Regions from separate parts of the Homo sapiens genome. Here region 1 is linked to region 2. The links come from fine-mapping of genetic effects on gene expression. Tissue or cell type: subcutaneous fat. Region 2 holds a variant in brackets; the other region holds the start of a gene. All regions are shown on one strand. Distances are from middle to middle.

Region 1 (8,000 bases), 45 kb after region 2:
ATATCAGTGTTTAAATGATAAATTAGGATATGTTTCTGAATATGAAATTAAGAAACATCCTTCAGATTAAATAAGATTATAACTATGCTAATAAAGCAAATTTCAAGCTCTTTCTTACACTGTTAAATAAATTACTATAAACATATCAAGGTCAAAAGGATAAAATATCTTTATCATCTAATTAACTTCTAAGTACTTCACATCAAAGATGATATGCCTAAATGTTTAATGCCTTACAGATGACACTGAAATATCTGATGAACCAATGACTACATGACTGAGTTCCTGGGTCATTCAATTACAATTTTTTAAAAAGTATTCATTGTTTAAAAATGTAAATAGATTTTTACTGTCCTTAAAACCGTAATTAAAGTGTACTTAAAATATTGTTTAACAGACATTTTGGGTAGCTATTAAAATATATTTCTACTACAGTATATACCATTCACTATGTCTGCTCTGAGAACACTGATATTTGTTTTCAATTGGTTTTCCTTTAAAGTAAATATTCTGCATGGGCATTTTACATTAGTAGAAACCGTTAAGTTGTATGAATAGGATTAATTCCTGCTATATAATTGTATTATTGACTATTACACAATAAGTAAAAGTATAAAGTGATTAGAAAGTTAGAGAATGATGTATCAAAAATGAATTCCAGGCCAGACACGAGGGCTCATGCTTGTTATCCCAGCTCTTTGGGAGATTGAGGTGGGCAGATCACCTGGGGTCAGGATTCGAGACCAGCCTGGCCAACATGGTGAAACCTCCTCTCTACTAAAAATAAAAAAGTTAGCCAGGTGTAGTGGTGGGCACCTGTAATCCCAGCTACTTGGGAGGCTGAGGCAGGAGAATTGCTTGAACACAGGAGGCAGAGGTTGCAGTGAGCCAAGACTGCGCCATTGCACTCCAGACTGGGTAACAGAGCAAGACTCTGTCTCAAAAACATAAATTAATAAATAAATTCCTAATGCTGACAAATAAAATTTGGTTGCTTATGAAGAAATGCAAATTATTTAAGTTTTCATTCAAATACTGTACTAAGCTTGTGTCACTAAAACTTTGGAATATGAAACTTTTGGATAATTACAGAAAACACAAAGAAAGTAAAAACATATGAACACCACCAAGAGTGAAATTTATTTTATTTTTGAGACAGTCTCGCTCTGTCACCCAGGCTGGAGTGCAGTGGCATGATCTCGGCTCACTGCAACCTTCACTGTAAACTATGGCCTCTGGGTGATAATGACATGTCAGGGTAGGCTTATAGATTGTAGCAAATGTACCACCTTGATGCAAGATGTTGACAGTGGGGGAGGCTATGAGTGTGTAGGGGCAGCAGGTATATGGGAATTCTCTGTACTTCCCACTTAACTTTGCTGTGAACCCAAAACTGCTCTGAAAAAATAAAGTCTATTAAAAAAAAAAAAACACGCACATATCCACAGGGAAAGTCTGCTGTATCTGCCTTTAAAATAATAAAGTAGTACTAATGTTCAACAGTAATGGTGAAGAAATATAGTTAAAATAATTAGAAAAGTAGTAAAAAAAAAAAACAAGTGTTTTTAATATTTGAGAACTTTACAGATTTTTTAAATTACGTATTTCTCACTTATCTAATTACAAAGAGAAACATCTGAAGAAACTAGTGCAGGAAAAAAAGAGCTCATGTTAGAGATCTAGATTTACCACCCTGCATTGTCACTTAAAAGTTACTTGATGTTGGGCAAATTGATTCACCTCTCCAGAGTCTGGTTCCTCATCCGTAACACACAAAACATCTGCAGTGTGCCTATCACAGTGCCAAGCTTACAGCAGACATTCAGCAGATTGGCAGAGTCTTATTAGACAAGATAGAGGATAGATAGATCAATTATAGGTCTGAAACATTTAGAGATTCTATACATCACTGTTTTATGTGAGACTAAATGAGACGCCAAGAAATTAATTTCAAATTTAGTACCCACTTGTTATATAACAAATATATTATGTGCAGGTACAATGTGAATTCAAAGAGGAAACAGAAATGGACCTAGTCGAGGAGCACTTAGCTATCATACAGCACTTTACTGTCAGCAGAGGAAGAACCTGTTAATAAAAACTTCAGAAACAGAAAAGGAAAGACTTTACCTTTTCTTTTGCCAAACCACTTTCTGGAAAGAAAACAGAAAGTGAATATTCATAGCCACATCTTTGTAAGTGATCTGCCACTAAAGAGTTAGAGGCGCCTATTAAGAGGGAGCTCCCTTCTACTGAAATGGACCGAGGCTGCAGTTCTCCACTCAATACAGGGTGCATCAACTCATGAATTAGCTGGTTTCGAAGTTGTGTCTAGCATAAAATAAAAACAAAAATAAAAAAGAAACACAAGGGAAAGAAATTTCAGCAGGACTGTTTCATTAGAGATATACACAGATGAGCTACATTCATTGGAAACCTTCCTTCTATTTCCATAATGGTTCTAGATCCATGGCCAGAAGTTAGAAACCTTCCCCTGCACACTTTGTCTTACCCCGTGAGACAAGCAGTCCAGTGGGTTCTAGAAAAAGCTTTCTTTCCCCAGCTTCCAAATGAAACGGGTGGTTAGCCAGATCCACTTGCAGACTCATAACTTCACTTCCCTAGAAGCCCATTTCAGCAGCTTACGATTGGGATATTAAGTATAGGAAAAAATTCTGCCACTTCATCACACCTCTGTGGACTGTTGGAGAATATAACCAAAATATTCAACAACAGGGGACTGCTATATACATTACAAAAATATCCAAAGATAAGCCTGTTGCCACTGAAAATGAAGATTTCAAAAAACTTTTAAGGAAACAGGGAAATGCTCACCATATAATTTAAATTAAAAAAGGATACATACACAGGATATAGCTACATATTTTAAACGTAAAATATGCTTTTGAAATGCATATTTCAATGAAAACACGTTGAGCTAATCCTACTCCTGGCTGTTAATCCAAATATAAAGCATACTAATAGGTATTTTCTGCCCAAACTAAACATTCATACATTTCAATATAGTTTAAAGATAAAATTTTTCATTTCCCAAACTATTATTAAGCAGTACACTAGTATTTTCTATATGGTGTCAATGTCCTTCATCCAAATGTATTACAAACCCACTTATTAATTTAGGAACCTATAAGCCATATTTATAAAACAAGCCTAATCTTACTGTGTTCATTATACAAATATTTCCTTCTCCTATCTTATTGTCAGTTCAATTAATTATTTGAATATGCTCCTTTAAGACGACTCAAACTCAACATTTTCTCAAACATTTTCAAGAGACTGTAATGTTTCAGGATACAGAGTTATTCGGGAATATAAAAATGTAATTCACCAATACAATCTATGTATCATACGATTATTAAAACCTAAACCTTGATTGAATTTGAACTACCTGTTACAGGTTACACTTGTAAAAGCTGACACAGATACGCCTAAATCCGATACCTTGAGTGTATCCAGTATACCCCGATCCTTAAACGTCTGGTATAGCTTTTTGCGCAGTTCATCTTGACTCAACACATCAGCCACGGTAAACATGTTGGACTAAAAGACAAAATGGTTATAGGTTACCTGCGGGGCAGAGGGAACGTGAACGTCTGAAAACAGACCAGTGGCCTCCGGGGAAGCCATAAGAGGCCTAGCGGCGAAAGTTTAACGAACACAAAACAAGACTTTATTTCCGCCCGAGAAGGGGCAGGTGTGTCTACCTGCGCCATCATCAGGCGTCAGCTCCCTCCGGAGCCCGCCTCGCTCGCCCCGCCGCGGCCCGAGTTTAGTGCCCAGCCCGGGCGGTGGGGCCAAGACGAGGGGGAATCCCTGCCCTCAGAACCCTGCCTCTGTCCCGAGGGTTCGGGAGGAACAAAGGTGCTGAACGTTCTCTGCCTCGCACTCCCAACTAGGTTTTCTAGCAAACACGCGAGCTTCCTTTCTTCGCGGTTCTGAGGCAAGGGCGAGGACCCAGGCACGACTCAAAGGCGGCTGGAGGGCGGGGACCCAGACACTAGGGACTGAAGGCAGCGAGGCAGGACCGCCTCACAGCCAGTCCGGCAACTTCCGGAAACCTGCTAAATATAGCCTTCCCGAGCTGAAGAGCTACGGCGCATGAGCTTGGTTGCCCAGCACCGGCCGGAAGCTCCGCCTACGTATCGCGAGAGCACATCCCAGGGTATCGCGAGAACTGCTTCGGCGTTCTGGCTACAGGTTCGGGGCGCGGGTCTCTTCCGCGGAAACTGACATTGCGTTTCCGTTGTCGGCCTCCCACTGCAGGTAGGGAATGGAGCAAGTGCGGCGGGGGGCGGGTGTTTTGAGTCCCTGGAGGACTTCGTAGCCCCTGCGTGACGCGGATGTTGGTCCTGTACCTCCACCCCTCCCCGGGGTGGCCGGGCCGGACCTGCCAGCCCTCCGCTGGCTCATCCGCGCAGCCCTTCCACCTGCAGACGTCCGCCCTCTCGGGGGCTGTGGTTTCGCGGTTCACTGGGTCATTCAGCTAACCCAGGGTTTCTTAACGGCTGCACTGTTGCCTTTTGGAGCCGGAAGATTCTTTGTTTTGGGAGGCTGTCCTGTGCATTGTAGGTTTAGCTGTATCCTTGCTCTCTATTTTGTCAGTATCACCTTCTCCCCCAAGTGTGACAACCAAAGATGTCTCCAGATATTGCCAGATGTCCTCTTGGAAGCAAGATCGCTCCGGGTTGAGATCCACAGAGCTAAACGTTTTAGAGTACCAACCATTGTGTGCTGTGAGGTAAAGGTGAGCCAGTCCTCATGATGCTTAAATGTAATTAGAAAGGAAAGGAACCAAACCTCTCAGAAGCGATAATGAAAATGTTACAGCCAGAGAATTGAACAAGAACTAAGATACATTGTAGACTGGATAAAGAGTTTAAAGGGGAGGTGGTTGAAGATGGAAGTGATCCAGATCATCTCTGTGGAAAAAGTGTGTCTTTATCGGGGCCTTGATGGGTAGGATTCGGGTGGTGAGCAAAAAGGAGAACATCACAGGAAGGGGAAAAATGAGCAAAGGAATCATTAAAAGAAAAAAAAAAGCCACGACCTTCTTGGGAGCAGTGAGGAATCTAGCCTGACTCCAGAGTTGTGTGCTGGGAATATAAGCCTTATATGGTATCTAAGTCCTGTGAGGACAGAATTGGATGTCAGCTTTGTGTACAGCATTGAAGATGAGTACGATGAGTTTTGATCTCTGGCTGTGAAAAACTTAAAGTATTTAAGAGGCAGTAAGAGTGACAGGACTTCATAGGAGGTGGAGAACCTGTAAGTTTTTGTTGGAAACAATGGAAAAGGAGGAGAGGCTTAGTTGGATTTTAAAGGATGGGTAGTGGTTGCAGACAGAATAAAGGAGAACATTCCAGGCATGAAGAGAGAAATGATAGTAGCTCTGAACTCGATATAGTCAAAGTGAATTTGGGAGAAAAAATAAGTAAACGAGTCAACGCTAGCAGAGGTGGAACAATAGGGCTGAGAAAAGACACGTGGAGCAATGTGGGAATCTTGAATACTAGTACATGATCCTGTAGCTGAGATGCATCAAAGGCTTTTGAGTGGAATGATGAAAACAGTGTTCTAAAAAGATGTTGATATGTTGTAAATGTTGTTAAGTAGAATCACTTGTCCACTGTTTAAAAAAAAAAAATGTTCCTGAAGACCCCCTTACTCCCACCTCCACCTTTGGTCCCACAGTTGAATACATGAATATAATTAGATAAAATGTTCTCCAAAAACTAGCATAACTTCTAGGGGAGGGAGAATTGCTTATAATATTAATAGAAAAATGTCACATTAAAGACCTATCAGTAGTATTCCTACTGCCCCTCCTCATTGTAATAGACATGTCCCATGCCATACCAGTTTAGTCTCATGACCCCAGGTTTATGGAACAACTGAAATCACTGCTCTCGCGAGCACAGGGCAGTTTTTCTAGAAGCTCTTCTATAGAGGTTGTAAAGAGGCATGCTACAAAAATGGATGTCTTTGGAACTGGAGTCCATGAGTTTTATCTTGCATTTGTCTACAACTTAAGAGACTTCCAAGTTCACTGAGCATCCTCCCACTCTGGCACTGTTGGTGTTCCACCCACCCCTTAGTTTCTAGTTTCCCAGTGACTTCAAATGAGCAGCCCTGGGCTTGGCCTATGGAACGGTTTGGAATAAGTCTGTGTAGTCCAGAGTCAGCAAATACTTGGCCCTCCTGTAGGTACTGCACTTCCCCAAATTCATAGCAGACATGGATAATTGATCACAGCATTCTTTCCTGGTGACCACATTTAGTCTCAGAATCTTTCTCAGCGCCAGTTCCTGGCAGTCACTACCAGTTGATTAGAATTCGCTTATGAAAGGAAACTCATTTGCCATCCCTAGCCAAGTCCCTTTTTCATTAGATAGCTTATCGTATTTAAAGATAGTACTGTGCTGTACCCCACTCCCTTTCCACCCCAAAAAGGTCTCCCCTACTCCGTTTAAACATCCTCTGTTACTTCAGTTGCTCTTGTCTGGTTTCCAGAGCATTTCCTAGCCTAGATCCTGCCCTCCCTTCCCCTGTAACACACAGAGTTATTGATCCTTTTACAATATGATTCCCAGAACTGAGTACCTTCCCCAAAGATGATAATATTATTGAAGAGGACATCAGCATTCTCCCTGACCTTGCTCTTAATGCCACCTAGAATTGATTAGCTTTTTTGACAAACCTATCAGACTTTTGCCTCTTACTGAGCTTGCAGAACTTTTGGGTTGATGTAGATGAACTGTTCTTAATCTAGGTTTCCCTTGTCCTTTTGTACAGTTGATTTTTAAGCCCAAGTACAGGGCTTGCTTTCTTATCCTCTTAACTTCTATCTTGTTAATTTCACCTTACTCTCCTAGCCATGGAGATCTTTTTTAATCCTAACTTCTGCCTTCTAATAAGTTAGCTGCCCTTGGTGTTATCTTTGAATGTGATAAGTTATCTTCATTCAAGTTATTGATTCAAATACTGAGCTAGACTAGGTTAAGGTCAACCTCAAAGCCTTACTAGAGACCCTGTGCCATAAATTGACACGGAGCACCCAATGTTCTCCGAGTATTGACACTCAAGTCGGCTATGAGCCATCCCTCATTCAGCAAATAATGAGTGCTTTCTGGGTCCCTGGCACTGTTGTAGCTCTAGGTATACCATAGTGAATGAGACGAATGGTGTATCTGCTCTCATGGAGGGCAACATTCTAGCAAGACTGTATTTTCACTCAGGCTCCAGGACTCCAGTTTGTTCTTAGGTAGATACCAAAATATTTCGTAAAATGACTTTCTGTTTACCTACCGTATCTCCCTTCAGAAACAAAAAATGTAAATTTGGTATGACTTGTTCTAGTACAACCAGGAGTATATGAATGAATAATCTGTTTTTATCTAGGGATTCACATTAAATGAGTTAATGTATAATAAAAGTGCCTGGCATGGCATCTGACTGAAAATAAACATTTAATACACGTTTCTGTTGGTGTTCTAGTCGCTCTGAATGTACCCTGTTATAGACTAGGAGATAAGCCTTTTTCCTGTTTCTGAAAATAGGAATAGCATTTAACCTAGCGGATGATATGGCATTTTTCTTGCAATTTCTCAAATGTCACTGATCAGCAGTTATGCAATCACATTTGTTAATCCAAGGTATATAATTTGTCAGGACCTGATGACTTGGATTTATTGAAATGTCTAGATGTTTTCTTTTTTCTTTAGTTATACTTTTAAGTTCTAGGGTACATGTGCACAACATGCAGGTTTGATACATAGGTATACATGTGCCATGTTGGTTTGCTGCACCCATTAACTCATCATTTACATTAGGTATTCCTCCTAATGCTATCCCTCCCCCAGCCCCCCACCCCCTGACAGGCCCCAGTGTGTGATATTCCCTGCCCTGTGTCCAAGTGATCTCATTGTTCAATTCCCACCTATGAGTGAGAACATGCAGTGTTTGCTTTTCTGTCCTTGTGA
Region 2 (8,217 bases):
TACTTATGTGCAAAATGAGGATTCTAACCCTTGCCGCCCAGGACTCAGGTAAGGATTAAAAGATTACAACTGGATGCTGCCCTGAGCAAAGGAAACATCATTCCCACCTTGGAAGGAAGGCCCAGGTTGCTGGGACATGGGCAGGGATGCCGCCCAGGATGCCCCACAAGTCCATCAAAGCCATCAGTGGGGCGAGTGACGCACTCACAGGAACATCCCCCTCATGTCCTCTCTCCAGCGTCCAGAAACGTAGTCACTACCAGGCAGTGAATTTAATGGTTCAGGATCTCTTCTTCTCTTTGTAGGATACAACTGATGCAGTATGTCATCTATGGAATTGCGTCCTTTTTCTTCTTGTATGGGATCATTCTGTTGGCAGAAGGCTTTTACACCACAAGTGCAGTGAAAGAACTGCACGGTGAGTTTAAAACAACCGCTTGTGGCCGATGCATCAGTGGAATGGTGAGTTGAACCTCTGATAACTGATTGTTTGATATACAACCAGAGCCATGCCTTGATGTATTTCCTTGTATTTGGCAAAAGCTACCAGGTATCGAGCGTGAATGGAGGGTCCATGACACAAATATTGGCTTTACCAATTTAGAGTTAGGACTATAAAAACCTTCAACATGCTATTGATAGTAAACTAAAGTCTATGGCTGGCAGAAATAAATCAAATGTTTTCATCAGTGTAAAGGTGAAAAGGGTGCTGAAGATTTTTCAAATGCCAAGTTCCCACTATAGAAGGAGGTAACTTTCATGTGGTCTCAGTGCTCCCCTTTGGTTGTCTTTAAATATGGATCATAGCCATAAAGACATACATGAACCATGGAAAATCGTCCTGATCCTTCTGTAAATACTTACCAGTACCTGCTGTACAGAGCGCCTAGCTGGGCTTTGCTAGCCACTAGAGGTGCAAAGATTAAAACACAGGCTGCTTTCTCAAGCAGCTTATAGTCTAAGACAGGGGTTAGCAAACTAGGGGCTGTGGGCCAAATTTGACCTACTACCTGTTTTTGTACAGCTCAAGAGCCAAGAATTTTTTTTTTTTTCTTTTTTTTTTTTTTTTGAGACGGAGCATCACTCTGTCTCCAAGGCTGGGGAGGGCAGTGTCGCGATCTCCACTAACTGCAACCTCTGCCTCCCGGGTTCAAGCGATTCTCCTGCCTCAGCCTCCTGTACAAGTCAGGGGAATGGTTACTTTTGTAGGGGAAGGAGGCAGCTGTTAAATAAAATGCCTGTGGAAAGCAGAGGGAAAATAGCCACAAATAGTGGGAATCCTCCTCCAAAGGAAAAAAAAACCAAAAACATCTCCTCACAGCTTTAAAATGACAGCTTTCCCCCTCACTTCTACCCATCAAGTTTCAAAAATAGAGGTCTAGTTTCCACCAGGGCACAGCATTAAGTCATCCACTGCCTGATGTTTAACATATTTGGATCCTTTGAGCATTGGTCAGGACACAGTACATGGTGGAGAGGAGAGGAGCTTGTTTGTACTTGAGCTAGTGGCACTTCACCTAGAGATGGGGACACTGTGAGGGATCCACAGCCCACCTAGCATGGCCCGCTTTTAGCTCTTATGTCAGATTTTGTTGGAGAAAGTCGAAAGCCCCCTTAGACTGGAGAGGAGCTTGACCATCTTGCTTGATTTCATTGCCAGTCATTCATGCGCTGTCTGCATCTCTGGCCACTGGCACCTCATGTGCTTCCGTTTCATCCATACGCTTAACAGATCACAATGCTGACCTGCCTTGGAGGGTGTGAGGAAGATGCAGGTGACGGGGCAGGGCTGAGGATGCTGGGGACAGAAACAGGACAGAAAGTCATGTGAGGTGGAGAAGGTGGATGAGATCTGCCCGCTAGGGAAGCAAAGCTGCCACTCCATCACCAAAGGCCTTTGTCTCCTCAGTCCTGTGAACCCAAAAGTATCTGAAACAGGTATCAGCCAATTTAGAAAGTTTATTTTGCCAAAGTTAAGGATGCACCCATGACACAGCCTCAGGAGGTCCGGACAACATGGGCCCAAGGTGGTCAGGGCACAGCTTGGTTTTATACATTTTAGGGAGACGTGAGACATTTATCAATGAATGTAAGATGTACATTGGTTCCGTCCAGAAAGGTGGGGACAACTCGAAGCAGGGAGGGGGCTTCCAGGTCACAAGTAGGTGAGAGACAACTGGTTGCATTCTTTTGGGTCTCTGATTAGCCTTTCATTGAATATACAATTCACATGGGAGAGGAGGGTAGAGGAATAGTCACTTATGCCTGGTCTGGCTTGGTGAAAAGACAGGGCAGAGGAAGCAATCAGATATGCATTTGTCTCACATGAGCCTCAGAGGGATGACTTTGAGCTCTGTCCTTTGTCCACGAGGAATTTCCTTGTGGGCAAATTGTGAGGGAGGTATGTAGCTTTATCTTTGTGCTATCTTGTTTAGGAATAGAATGGGGGATTTGCCTGTCGCAGTTCCCAGCTTGACTTTTCCCTTTGGCTTAGTGATTTGGGGGTCTGGAGATTTTTCTTTCGTAGTCCTGTGTGGGAGGTTTGTGCCCAGGAACTCACTGAGGAAGCAGCTCTGGACGCTAGAGGCCTCCATGACAGGGCCAGCTCGCAGCGGGGACCTCTGGGAGGGGGACAGTGGCCTTCCCTCTGGAGTCCTGGCCTCTGACAGAAGGGAAGGCTCACTGAAGCCAAGAACCACCAGCTCCCTCCTGCTCAGGTCCTGTTTTCTTTTGAAGGGAAAGAAACCTAGTCTGGAGCAGCAGTGGGAGGAAGTGGGAGGTGGAACTGCTGAAATCTGCTTCTCTGAATATTTTTGGAGATGCAAATGCTTCCTTGCAGTGCAAGGGAAAGTGTCTCGTTTCTGCAGTTTCCTGGCATTGTGACCATCAGGAGGTGGCCTCCAACCGCCCAGGTATCTCCTGCAGCACAGAAAGTTAGGGGTGACCATCAGGTCTCCACCATCAGCTTCAAAATAGAAAAGCCAAACTAGCACTCCACACCCTCTGTGGGCGCGCCTTCTGAGAACACAAATACCACGTTTTTGAGGCCGCCTCACAAAGCTCTCTGAAAAGTGGTCAAGGCAGAGGAAAGCCAAGCAACGGGATTCTATTCTTCCTGGATTGCCCATGACAGTGTGTGGGTGAACACCTGAAGCTTTTTCCCTAAGCCGTTGCTTTGCTTGCAAAGCTGCTGTGAATCTTAGAGACAAAAGAAAAGTAGAGGAAAATGAGAATTTTATAGATCGAGCATTAAGCTTGTATTCGTGATTATTTGAAACTTTTGGTAATTTTGCAGAATCAGGAAACTAGCAAAGTTCTTTTTGAGAGGGCTTCTTGTGGCAATTGCTATTCTCTGTGAGCCAACCTGTTACGAAAAATAAAGGTAACTTTTGAGAAATTAATATGAAGTTATAATTCAGTGGTATATGGAATACATCCAGAATCTATCCCATGTTAAGTAGCATGTTCTGCATTTTCAGAACGGCTATTTAGAAAGAGCACCTCTTGAGAGGCTGCCACTGATTAGCTCTGTGACCTTGGATGAGTGAGATCACCTCTTGGGGTCTCCTGTCCTTGTTAGTTAAGAGTGACCCGAAAGGCCCTGACATTGCTTCGGGCACTCCAATTCTAGATCCTCTAGCTCTGGGGAATGTGGCTGGCTCTTACTTCCCCTGCTCCCGTGCTGGCTTTTCCTTCTTGCTACCAATGCCGGGGCGAGGGTCCCCACAATGTGTTCCACAGGTCAGTATTGGGCCTGAAAATGCACAATCCTTCCACTTAGGGGACACACATCTACCTGTTTCAGTGATGATTGTCCTTCCTCTTGTTTTGGCCTAGTTCGTTTTCCTCACCTATGTGCTTGGAGTGGCCTGGCTGGGTGTGTTTGGTTTCTCAGCGGTGCCCGTGTTTATGTTCTACAACATATGGTCAACTTGTGAAGTCATCAAGTCACCGCAGACCAACGGGACCACGGGTGTGGAGCAGATCTGTGTGGATATCCGACAATACGGTACTTCCTTCTAATTCACCCCTCCCCCAGTTATTTCATTATCCTCTCGTGCATATGTCTGGACCTAATTATTACATGCGCATCCTTTTAATTGTCATGATCTGTTTCATCCCTTCTATTAGAGTAATTTTATACTTTTCCCTTCAATATGCTATTTTCTGGGTGGAAACTTCAGGGAGGCTTTTAGCTTGCTAGGTATCAAAATTTCGTTATATTTTCATGTTAAGTGTGTAGTGAAAGAAGCTTTTCTTAATATGAAACTACTTTATAATGCAGTTCAATCAAAAAAGACTTCTGGATCTCCGCTACAAAAAGATTGTATTTTTTCTTTATTTTCAGTTTTATAACATCCAACTTTCCATTCAAAATAATATTGCACACATTGTATAATTCAATTAATTTGCACATCCAACTCCTCAAATCTGGTCTTTTTAAAATGACCAACTGCTTAAACTTCATCTGTATTGAAAAATACAACATTAGATCCAGCCATATTTTAAAGTCATCAGAACATACTCTATAAATCATTATCAGCTGTTAGAAACCAGTTCAAACATTTTCTAATGAGTGAGATCCTTACAATGGGGATCTAAGGTTGGTTCATTGTGACAAACCCCAGAAGAGACCACTGGCTCCTCCTGTCAGTTAATTTGGGACTTGACTTCGCTGCTGA[G/T]TAAGAGAGGGCAGCTGAGTAAGAGGGCAGCATCCTGAGGGAGGAGTCTAATTACTGCTTCCAGCCACCATGGTAGGAAATCTTTTCTTGGCAGAAACAACCGGGGGTGGGGGGGAATAGCTTTCATCAGAATTGAAGAGGAAATAACTGTCCTTCCAGAGCTTTTCTGAAGAGAGATGACTATTTCATTTTTGCTGTTTTTCTCATGTGGCTTAGTCTCAACATCTTACCTTACAACATAATACTAAATTTGCTTGAAACTACCTATCAGACTAACCTCTTCTCACAAAGACCAAGGCTGAACAACACTGTTCTTTATGATAGAGCTAAAAACGGAGCCTAAAGTTGGCTGTTAAAGTTATTTGTAAATGAATATCTAAATGTATATCATTCTCCTATTCCTTAAAAGTAAGTGTTTTGCCACAAATTTTTGGTAATCAGCAATCATCTTTTTAAATCCTCTATATTTGCCTATTTATTGTTATAGTTACTGGTTTCACTGATAATTTGGGGTAATTTCCCATGCTTCTGAAGTATAAAGATGTACTCTTGGCCCGTGTCAAGGATGAAAGGAATAAGGATTTTTTTTCTTCTAATACTCCTTTCCTTAACCTCCTAGGAGTGTTTAATATTTAAGCACAAACTTATGCATTAAAGGGGAAAAAAAGCAGCAGCCCACTGGACAACTGTCATTGCAGAGGAGCCTCAGGGTTTAAGTGAGAGAGAAATCATAGACTCTGCTTGTCCCACCCTCTGGGGTAAAGGACAGTAGTGTTTTTTCTTTTTAAAAAATTTCCGGCCACGCACGATGGCTCATGCCTGTAATCCCAGCACTTTGGGAGGCTGAGGCGGGTGGATCACGAGGTCGGGAGTTCAAAGACCAGCCTGGCTAAGATGGTGAAACCCCGTCTCTACTAAAAATACAAAACTTAGCTGGGCATGGCGGCAGGCACCTGTAATCCCAGCTAGTTGGGAGGCTGAGGCAGAGAACTGCTTGAACCCGGGAGGTGGAGGCTGCAGTGAGCCAATATTGCAGCACTCCACTCCAGCCTGGGCGACAGAGCAAGACTGTCTCAAAAAAAAAAAAAAACAAACCAATTTGATTTTCAGTCCAAAAATATTTTCTAATACGTTTATAAGACATAATAAAAATGAATATAAAAACAAAGACAAAGTACAAATCCAGAGTTTTTTATTGGATTCCCACAAACATAAATTACTCCGTCAAATTGCCATGAAAGTTTGAGTGTATACTTGCAATTTTGGAACTTAACTCCTGGCAGACCAGTAACAGAGCTTGGACAGCAAGGCCACAGACCACAGCATTCATGAGGAAATGTATTTTGACCTCAATGTGATAAAATGCTTTATGAGGGGGTTGTCCTGCAGTAACTATAGGGAAAGCCTGGCTTTGAAAATTAATGTTTACAAATATGAACTTCCAAATGTGAACCCTCACTGAATAAAGCACAATTTGTAGGGGAAAAAAATATCAGGCTGTTTAAATCTCTTATGGACTAGTTGGCTTTGCTTTTGGCCTATTGTTCAAATGGGGCTATTTATTCCAAAATGCTTGTTCTGCAGACAGCAGATCCATCAATTCTTAATGAAGAACATAGCCTACAATTACACTGTAACTGGCATCCGAAGTGGTGGGGTCTGTTAAGAACATGAGGCGCTATAGTTTGTACTAACATCCTATTGGGGTTCATTTTACAGGTATCATTCCTTGGAATGCTTTCCCCGGAAAAATATGTGGCTCTGCCCTGGAGAACATCTGCAACACAAACGAGGTAAACTCATCACAGTTCAGAATAACCCTTGAGTATTAGGCTGAGAAAAAAGGGTTCTCCCAGCTGTAGAAAGAGCGAGAGAGATGGTTAAAATGCCATTAAGGAAAGCTCCTTGTTTAGAATCTTTAAGATAGAGCTATATGTAACCATCACTATTCAGCCATTTTTGACCTACAAAAATGGTCACTTCATATGGTCCAACACATTTGGTGAGAATCCTTAAGAAGTGGAGGGCTTTTCCTTTGGGCAATAATTTAGAGGTGATCCCAAACCTAGAAATCTAATAATATATCTAGATTCTTCTCTCACCTCTTCTACTTCTACTCTTTCTACTTTGAAAGATTTTCAAAGTAGAACACCTGTCACAGAACGGATGTAAGTTAATTTTCATAGAGGAGTCCCTCTATTTCATAGAGGAATTTGTGTATATACCCAACTTTTAATAAATGAGGCCACAGTTAATCATTTATATTTCTGGAATGACTTGCTACTTCTCTAATTCTCATTCGTCCTTACTAGGGAGTGTGTCCTAACAATTTGGTTTAAATTGTCTCAGCCCTAGAACATTCTTCAGTCATTGGCTTGTAACTGTTTATAAAGGAAAATTCTTAAATGCATTCGTAGGTGCTTGTATATTTAAGAAAATCCTGGCAAGCTTTTAAGAAGCAGTGAGTTACAGAAATAATCAGCTCCTACCCTATCTGACTTGTCAATTTGTATATCCATAATATGCAGTGGCTTGAAGCAGGGCTCCCCACCGTGGCTGCATGTTACAGCCATCAAGGCAGCACTATGTTATACTGATGGCTGAGGCCCAGCCCTTAGGTATTCAGATTTAATCGATTTGGGGGGCAGTCTGGGCATCAGAAAGTTTTTAAAGCTCCTCGGGTGATTCCACCATGAGGCCAGAGCATGAAGAGAAGGCAGGCCTGTGCCCAGTCTTGCAGAGAAGAGCTGCAAAGGAGACAGATGAAGCAGCACCCCACAATGAGTGTAGGCCATTTCATTTAACATCAAATGCTTATGTTGATGCCCTGTTCTTTTGTAGTTCTACATGTCCTATCACCTGTTCATTGTGGCCTGTGCAGGAGCTGGTGCCACCGTCATTGCCCTGGTGAGTAATGGCCCCAAGACCACCCTAGTCTAGCCTCCTCCCTCCAGCTTCTAAATGACAGATTTCCCTTCCAGCTTTTACCAGCCTATTGAAGCCAATGATTCTGGCACTCAACCTTGGTTAACTGGCGCCTGTGTTAACTTACCACATGTAGTTTACAGAAAGTATTAGTTGGTTGCCTTGGCACTGATTGTAGGTGATGTAATTTGGACTCTGGAAAGAAAAGAGGGTATCAACACCTATCAACTAGGCCTAGCATATTACCTTGTTGCACTGAGCACTTAGCTTCATGACTTCAGTCGCAGACAGATGCAATGCTCACGTGAGGCATTACCCATTTCTTTGCCAAGGGATATTAATTTACAAGTGGAGATATGCACATATACATACATTTATATAGTCACTCATACAGGGTAGCTGTGTTCCATAAAGTCACCTCAAGCAATGAATTAGCGAATGCTGGACCACTGCTCCTAGGGGAAATACATGGCTAGGTTTCTGTGAGCCTCTGGTCACATCATTTTCAGCAACCTATCAACACATAAGCTTGTTTCGTGTGTTTCTGTGTAAATACACCGTATTTAATATATATTGTTGATTCCTTAATATTGAATTCATGGCCAATAGC

Alleles and levels. Alleles are on the strand shown, and positions count from the first base shown. SD is a standard deviation of normalised expression in the study named.
With allele T in place of G in region 2, the expression in subcutaneous fat of the gene that starts at base 4,061 in region 1 is higher (small effect, 0.27 SD a copy in GTEx).

The links. PIP is the estimated chance that this variant, and not a neighbour inherited with it, causes the effect.
Region 1: it holds the start of OFD1, and the variant in region 2 is fine-mapped to the expression of OFD1 in subcutaneous fat (GTEx, PIP above 0.99).

The regions. Positions count from the first base shown.
Region 1 is chrX:13,730,809-13,738,808 of GRCh38, reverse strand. OFD1 (OFD1 centriole and centriolar satellite protein) reads right to left here and starts at 4,061. Exons shown (of 23, transcript NM_003611.3): 1 at 3,726-4,061; 2 at 3,463-3,561; 3 at 2,131-2,331. The coding sequence starts at 3,737. TRAPPC2 (trafficking protein particle complex subunit 2) reads left to right here and starts at 4,189. Exons shown (of 6, transcript NM_001011658.4): 1 at 4,189-4,284; 2 at 4,624-4,765. RefSeq lists enhancers at 3,148-3,719, 3,488-4,687.
Region 2 is chrX:13,775,610-13,783,826 of GRCh38, reverse strand. It overlaps GPM6B (glycoprotein M6B), which reads left to right. Exons shown (of 8, transcript NM_001001995.3): 4 at 306-462; 5 at 3,838-4,009; 6 at 6,402-6,475; 7 at 7,524-7,589. Among named protein-coding and RNA genes, the nearest start is that of GPM6B, 37 kb to the left of the region's middle. The variant G/T (reference allele first, on the strand shown) is at 4,683.